2 linked regions of the Homo sapiens genome follow. The gene in region 1 interacts genetically with each later gene. Each region holds a gene or a part of one and is shown on either strand. Other genes may lie near its edges.

What was found.
Region 2: changes in ACVRL1 (region 1) and CIT together harm fitness more than expected from each alone (negative genetic interaction), as found in Homo sapiens cells (one large-scale study listed by BioGRID).

Annotation. Positions count from the first base shown.
Region 1 is NC_000012.12:51,920,683-51,924,174, forward strand, and holds the end of ACVRL1 (activin receptor type-1-like isoform 1 precursor), read left to right. Parts: intron 1-76; coding exon 77-211; 3' UTR 212-2,679; downstream 2,680-3,492. UniProt on the Homo sapiens protein: Type I receptor for TGF-beta family ligands BMP9/GDF2 and BMP10 and important regulator of normal blood vessel development. On ligand binding, forms a receptor complex consisting of two type II and two type I transmembrane serine/threonine kinases.
Region 2 is NC_000012.12:119,867,019-119,870,831, reverse strand, and holds part of CIT (citron Rho-interacting kinase), read left to right. Parts: intron 1-1,630; coding exon 1,631-1,772; intron 1,773-3,813. UniProt on the Homo sapiens protein: Plays a role in cytokinesis. Required for KIF14 localization to the central spindle and midbody. Putative RHO/RAC effector that binds to the GTP-bound forms of RHO and RAC1. It probably binds p21 with a tighter specificity in vivo.

The sequences.
Region 1 (3,492 bases):
TCTCTCCCGACCCCCTCCTCTTCTCTGCATCTCTCTCTCTGCCTCCTCTCCTCTGCACCTCTCTCCCAACCCCCAGGTCCTCTCAGGCCTAGCTCAGATGATGCGGGAGTGCTGGTACCCAAACCCCTCTGCCCGACTCACCGCGCTGCGGATCAAGAAGACACTACAAAAAATTAGCAACAGTCCAGAGAAGCCTAAAGTGATTCAATAGCCCAGGAGCACCTGATTCCTTTCTGCCTGCAGGGGGCTGGGGGGGTGGGGGGCAGTGGATGGTGCCCTATCTGGGTAGAGGTAGTGTGAGTGTGGTGTGTGCTGGGGATGGGCAGCTGCGCCTGCCTGCTCGGCCCCCAGCCCACCCAGCCAAAAATACAGCTGGGCTGAAACCTGATCCCCTGCTGTCTGGCCTGCTCAAAGCGGCAGGCTCCCTGACGCCTGGCTCTCTCCCCACCCCTATGGCCAGCATGGTGCACCCCCTACCACTCCCGGGACAGGATGCAAAAGAGGCTCCAGAGTCAGAGTGCCAAGCCAGGGAATCCCAGTCCCAGACTCAGAGCCCGGGCCTGCACTTTGCCCCCTGCCCTTGATCAACCCCACTGCCCCACCAGAGCTGCCAGGGTGGCACAGGGCCCTGTCCAGCCCCTGGCACACACTTCCCTGCCAGGCCTCAGCCTCTAGCATAAGCTCCAGAGAGCCAGGGCCCATCAGTTTCTCTCTGTGGATTTGTATCTCAGCTCCATGATGCCTTGGGCTTTCTGTCTCCTCAACAAGAGTGCAGCTTGCTGAATGTCAGCTGCCTGAGAGAGCTGGGGCCTGACTTACTAGGGCATTAAATCCTAAGAGGTCCTACTGAGGTGTGGCAGGATCACAGGCCAGTGGAAAAAGGGCAGGTCAGATGGGCAAGGCCCAGGACTTTCAGATTAACTGAGAGGATATCGAGGCCAAGCATGGCAGGGGGAAGGTCAGTGGGTGTCAAGAGACCCAGGTCTGACCCCGGATGTTTGCTCCATGTGACAAAAGCAGGCCTGTCTCAGGACCTTTTCTTTTCTTTTTTCCTTCTTTTTTTTTTTGACACGGAGTTTCGCTCTTGTTGTCCAGGCTAGAGTGCAATGGCATGATCCCAGCTCACCGCAACGTCTACCTCCCAGGTTCAAATCATTCTCTTGCCTCAGACTCCCGAGTAGCTGGGATTACAGGCACATGCCACCATGCCTGGCTAATTTTGTATATTTAGTAGAAACAGGGTTTCACCATGCTGGCCATGCTGGTCTCGAACTCCTGACCTCAGGTGTTCCACCTACCTCAGCCTCCCAAAGTGCTGGGGTTACAGGTGTGAGCCATCGCGCCTGGCCAGGACCTTTGTTTCTTATCTACATATTGGAAGATTTGGTCCTGATGTCCTTTGAGGCTTCTTTAGCTCTAGTTCTCTGACACTTCAGCCTATATCACAGCTAACTTCTTCAGTCTCATCTATTCCTTATGCTCCAGCCCCTGGCAATTTGCCTCAAGATGGGGGTTTGAAAATAACTTTACCTGACTCAAGGAGTGTCTGGAGCACCTCCTAGTCTAAGTCTGCAAGCTCCAGTTCTTGCCTAAAACCATGCCAGTGGCCACCCTTGGGCTCAGACAGCTCTGGGCCTTTTGACCACAAGCCAGCCCCTCGCCCTCTCTGTGGCATAGTCTTCTCTGCCCCAGGACTGCAGGGCGGCTTCCTCCAAGGCTTCCAAGGCTCAAAAGAAATTTGGCTCCATCCAAGAAGGCTCCAGCTCCCCTACTGGCCCCTGGCTCAGGCCCACACCCCTGGCCAGGCCCAGAGAGTGTGTCTCAGGAGAATTCAATGGCTCTAGAGAGACACACAGAAAGTTTGGCATTTGGAAATTTCAAGGATGTATGTATGCTCACGTATGGAGCAGGTTGTCCTGGTCCCTGGGTGCAGGGAAGTGGGCTGCAGGGAAGTGGATTGGAGGGGAGCTTGAGGAATATAAGGAGCGGGGGTGGAGACTCAGGCTATGGACAAGGACAGCCCCAAGGTTGGGAAGACCTGGCCTTAGTCGTCCTCAGCCTAGGGGCAGGGCAGTGAAGAAAGCTCTCCCCGCTCCTGCTGTAATGACCCAGAGTAGCCTCCCCAGGCCGGCATCTTATGTGTGTCTTCCACCATCCTCATGGTGGCACTTTTCTAGGCCTGTCTCCCAGCATTGTGCAAGGCTCGGAAGAGAACCAGGAAGTGAAACTGGGTGAAAACAGAAAGCTCAATGGATGGGCTAGGTTCCCAGATCATTAGGGCAGAGTTTGCACGTCCTCTGGTCACTGGAATCCACCCAGCCCACGAATCATCTCCCTCTTGAAGGATTTTATTTCTACTGGGTTTTGGAACAAACTCCTGCTGAGACCCCACAGCCAGAAACTGAAAGCAGCAGCTCCCCAAAGCCTGGAAAATCCCTAAGAGAAGGCCTGGGGCAGGAAGTGGAGTGACAGGGGACAGGTAGAGAGAAGGGGGCCCAATGGCCAGGGAGTGAAGGAGGTGGCGTTGCTGAGAGCAGTCTGCACATGCTTCTGTCTGAGTGCAGGAAGGTGTTCCAGGGTCGAAATTACACTTCTCGTACCTGGAGACGCTGTTTGTGGGAGCACTGGGCTCATGCCTGGCACACAATAGGTCTGCAATAAACCATGGTTAAATCCTGAGCTCCGGAGTCTTCCCAGGCCGATGCCTCTGCAGTGGCCCGTCGCAGAGGTCCAGATAAAACCAGAGGGATCCGGGGAGAAGAGGGTCCCAGGATACACGCCCAGCTTTGCCCTTAGACAGGTCACAGTTTCCTCACGCCCCTGCTCAGACCCCCGCGGGGGCCCAAATCTCAGTTCCTACCCCAGATTGGGAGCAGCCTAGTCGCCGCACCTGCCACGTCGCCCTCTGCTGGCCGAGGGCTGCCCAGCGGCCGCCTCCCATCCCCACACAGGGACCGCGGGGCCTTTCCCGGCAGGGTGGGGCAGCCTTCCCCGCACCCGGGGGCCAACGTCTGTGTGCTCACTGACTTGCTGTTCTGCAGGGACTGTCCCCCTAATACCACACCTAGCGAAGAGCGTTCTGCTTCCGAACCGGCAGCTTGGACCCTCCCTCCTCAATTCCTTGTTCTCACTTCCCTTCTCAAATGGGGTCCCCATCTTGCCAGGAGTCAGTCCCCATTCCCAGCATGGGAAGATCCCCTTCCCTGGGGACCTACCTTGTCCTGGGATCAGAAGGCACTTCACACACACATCCCATTCTCACACCCGGAAATTCGGGGCGGGGACATGCTGTGGGGGAGGCAGATACTAAAAGAAGCTGAGAGGGTCCTGGCCCATGGGACTGCCCAGCCTAGAAAATCTGTGCCTTCGTGTTAGACGCCCTCTTAGGGAAACATAGGAAGGGTACACCTTACACCACAGATGACCTTGTGGTCCCTTGCACCCCCAAGGCGGCCTCATGCCTGGAACCTCCTACCCTGGGTTCATGGATCC
Region 2 (3,813 bases), about 68 Mb from region 1:
AACTTTTTTTGTAAGTAATAAATATTTTAGGCTTTGTGGGTCCTGTAGTCTCTGTTGCAACCACTCAACTTGGCCATGGTAGCACAAAAGCAGCTAAAGACAATATGTAAATGATGGGTGTAGCTGTGTTCCAGTAAAACTTATAAAAAGTCCGTGGGCTGGATTTGGTCCAAGGGCTACAGATTGCACACCCCTGGTCTAGCCCAAGCATCTGTGCATGGTGGCTGGCTTCCCAAAAGTGGAAGCTGCTAAGCTGCCTTTTTTTTTTTTTTTTTTTTTTTTGAGAGGGAGTCTCACTGTGTTGCCTAGGCTGGAGTGCGGTGGTGTGATCTCGGCTCACTGCAACCTCCATCTCCCGGGTGCAGGCAATTCTCATGCCTCAACCTCCCAGGTAGCTGGGATTACGGGTGCCTACCACCACGCCTGGCTAATTTTTGTATTTTGGTAGAGACAGGGTTTCACCATGTTGGCCAGGCTGGTCTCAAACTCCTGACCTCAAGTGATCCACCCGTCTTGGCCTCCCAAAGTGCTGGGATTACAGATGTGAGCCACCGTGTCTGGCCGCTTGACAAGCTTCTTAAAGGCACTGCCCTGAACTGGCACAGTGTCACTTGTGTCACATTCTTTTGGTTGAAGAGAGTCTCAGAGATGGCACAGATTCAAAGGCAGGAGAAATAGACTCCAGCGCTTAAAGTAAGGAGTAGCATGTGCCTACAGAATTGGAGGAACTGTTGGAGGCCATCTTTGAAGAGAGACCACCACTATCCATGGCTTGGCACGTGGGAATCACTGCTCTATACCAGGGTTGCAGACTCATGTCTTTGGGGGCCAGGCAGTGAGTATAAATGAGTCAAGTGGGCCAGTTGGAAGATGGAGTCAGACCTGCAGTGAACTCCCAAACACATCTGCTACCGGGAGGGGCAGCATTACTCAGCTCCAGCTCAGCGTCATCAGGCAGGAAGGCGAGGCAGTGTTGCCGGATGTGCCAGTGTTTCAAAAGAAGCCAGAGACTCCATTTTTATTTTTTTGTATGGAATCTCCTGATTTTGAAATATTGGCAGATAATTCAAATTATCTTAAACACTACAGGCCAAACAAAACATATCTGTGGGCTAGAGACAGTCTGCCAGTTTGTAACTATTTCTCCAGATCATGAGTAAATTTGGCTTTACGATGGTCACTCAGTTCTTATTACTCTAGGTTGTTCAAATGAATTAAAAAAGCTGAAATTATATGAATAAACCCCTGGGCACACATGAAAGAAGTGAAAAACCCATTGTTTCCTATTGTAGAAACATGGAAGCATGTCAGAGCCAGAGGATCCAGAGGAAATATTCTCACTAGCCTCAGACCCTCAGGAGTGAGGGAGCTTTTCTTGTTAATGGCCACGCTTGTGCAGTTTTCCTTCCCAGGTGCTGGTGAAAGAAACCCACAGTCTTGGAATCATGGAAGTGATACCATAATGACTGTCAGTTGACGTTGCTTTAAAGAATGAAGCCACAGAATTGTGCTGTTAGCATGTCGTGAGCAGTTAGTTGAGTTGGTGGCTTGTAATTTACTCTGTGTGGATGTTATTGATCAAAGCTTTTCATTATTGACAGTGTCTCCATCTGCTGTTTGCTGTTTTTAGGGGAAACCACCCTTTATGACTCAACAGCAGATGTCTCCTCTTTCCCGAGAAGGGATATTAGATGCCCTCTTTGTTCTCTTTGAAGAATGCAGTCAGCCTGCTCTGATGAAGATTAAGCACGTGAGCAACTTTGTCCGGAAGTGTAAGTTTGGGGAACTTTTTCTTGAAAACTGTCCTGAGAGAGAAAAACTAGAAAGATGCTTGAGGCAGAATGAGTTACTGGTTGATAGTAGTCGGTAAGAACTCTGGTTCTATATAAGACAGATCCAGGTTCAAATTCAGGCTGCACCTCTTATAGCTGGGAGACCAGGTAAGTTGGGCTTCTTGGTTGCAAGCGACAAACTTAATTCAAAGACTGAATTTAGGCCAGGTGCAATGGCTCATACCTATAATCTCAGCCCTTTGGGAAGCTGAGGTGGGTGAATCGCTTGAGCCCAGGAGTTCAAGACCAGCTTGGGCAACATGGTGAAACCCCATCTCTACAAAAAATACAAAAATTAGCTGGGTATGGTGGCTTGCACCCGTGGTCCCAGCTGCTGAGGAGGCTGAGGTGGGAGGATCACTGGAGCCCGGGAGGTTGAGGCTCAATGAGCTGTGATTGTGCCATTGCACTCCAGTCTGGGTGACAGAGTGAGACCCTGTGTGAATAAAAGAGTGAATTTATTGGCTCATGAAACTGAGAAATCCAGGAATGAGTTAAGTTTTAGCTTTAGGCATAGCTAGTTCCAGAGACCTCAATAATATCCCGTGGCCCTGTCCTTATACTCACTCAGGGCTGACTTTCTATTAGGCAGAGTAGGCACGGTGCTTAGGATCTGTGATATTTAATTTTAATGAATTTAATTACTTTTAATTAACTGAATTAAATTTTAATTTGTTTTAAAATTATAGGAAAAATGAATATAATAATGTATAATGATTCTGGATTACATTCATCTTTATACTAATGTAGTCATAAAATATAATTTTTGTTTTTTTTGGAGACAGAGTCTTGCCCTATTACCCAGGCTGGATTGCAGTGGTATATCATGGCTCACTGCAGTTTCAACCTTCTAGGCTCAAGCAATCCTTCCACCCCAGTGGCTGGGACTACAGGCTCACACTACCACGCCCAGCTAATTTTTGCTTTTTTCTCTGTAGAGATAGGGTCTTACTATGTTACCCAGGCTGGTTTCAAACTCCAGGCTTGAAGCAGTCTTCCTGCCTCAGCCTCCCAAAGCTTTGGGATTACAGGTGTGAGCCACCATGCCTGGCCCCATAAAATATAATTTTTGAATTCTTTTTTGTTTTTAATGGAGGAAGGGGCTGAGGAAGGCAAAAGTACCTAGGGCCTATGAAGTCATATATTGGCCTTGCCTTCACCCTGTTTCTGACTTTGCTTGACTTCCATGTGATGAGGCAGTTGGCTGTTAGTGTCCCAGTTTCATACTCTTACATTAGTGTTTTTCAACCAGTGGGTGATTTGACGTTTTCGGTTGTCAGAGCTAGTTGGGGGTGGTGGTGTGTGAGTTTGGGGGGAAGGGTCCTACTGTCAGTTAATGGGTGAGGCCAGAGATGCCACCAAACACCTTACAGTGCACAAAGCAGCCCCCATAACACAGAATTATGTAGCCCACAATGCCAACAGTGCTGAATTTGAGAAACCCCACCTTGTACAACATTGCTGTGCAACCAACCACCCTAAATATTACTGACTTAAAACAATAGTCACTGTGGCTGGGCGCGGTGGCTCATGCGTGTAAGCCCAGCGCTTTGGGAGGCTGAGGCGGCGGATCACTTGAGGTCAGGAGTTCCAGACCAGCCTGGCCAACATGGTGAAACCTTGTCTCTACTAAAAATACAAGAATTAGCTGAATGTGGCAGCGGGCGCCTGTAATCCCAGCCATTTGGGAGGCAGAGGCAGGAGAATCGCTTGAACCTGGGAGGTGGAGGTTGCAGTGAGCCAAGATCTCACCATTGCACTCCAGCTTGGGCAATGAGTGAGACTCTGTCTTAAAAAAAAAAAAAAGTTATTGTATTACCTCTTGTGTGTGTAGGTTAATTGGACTCAGCTGGGGATTCCTCTGCTCTGTATTACATTGGCCAGGATTGCAGTCACCTGGGGCTCTCCTGGGCTGGAATGTGTGAGAGGGCTTACTCAGTGTTTGGTGCCCTGGCTTGGAGGCTGGGCCCAGCTGGGCCTC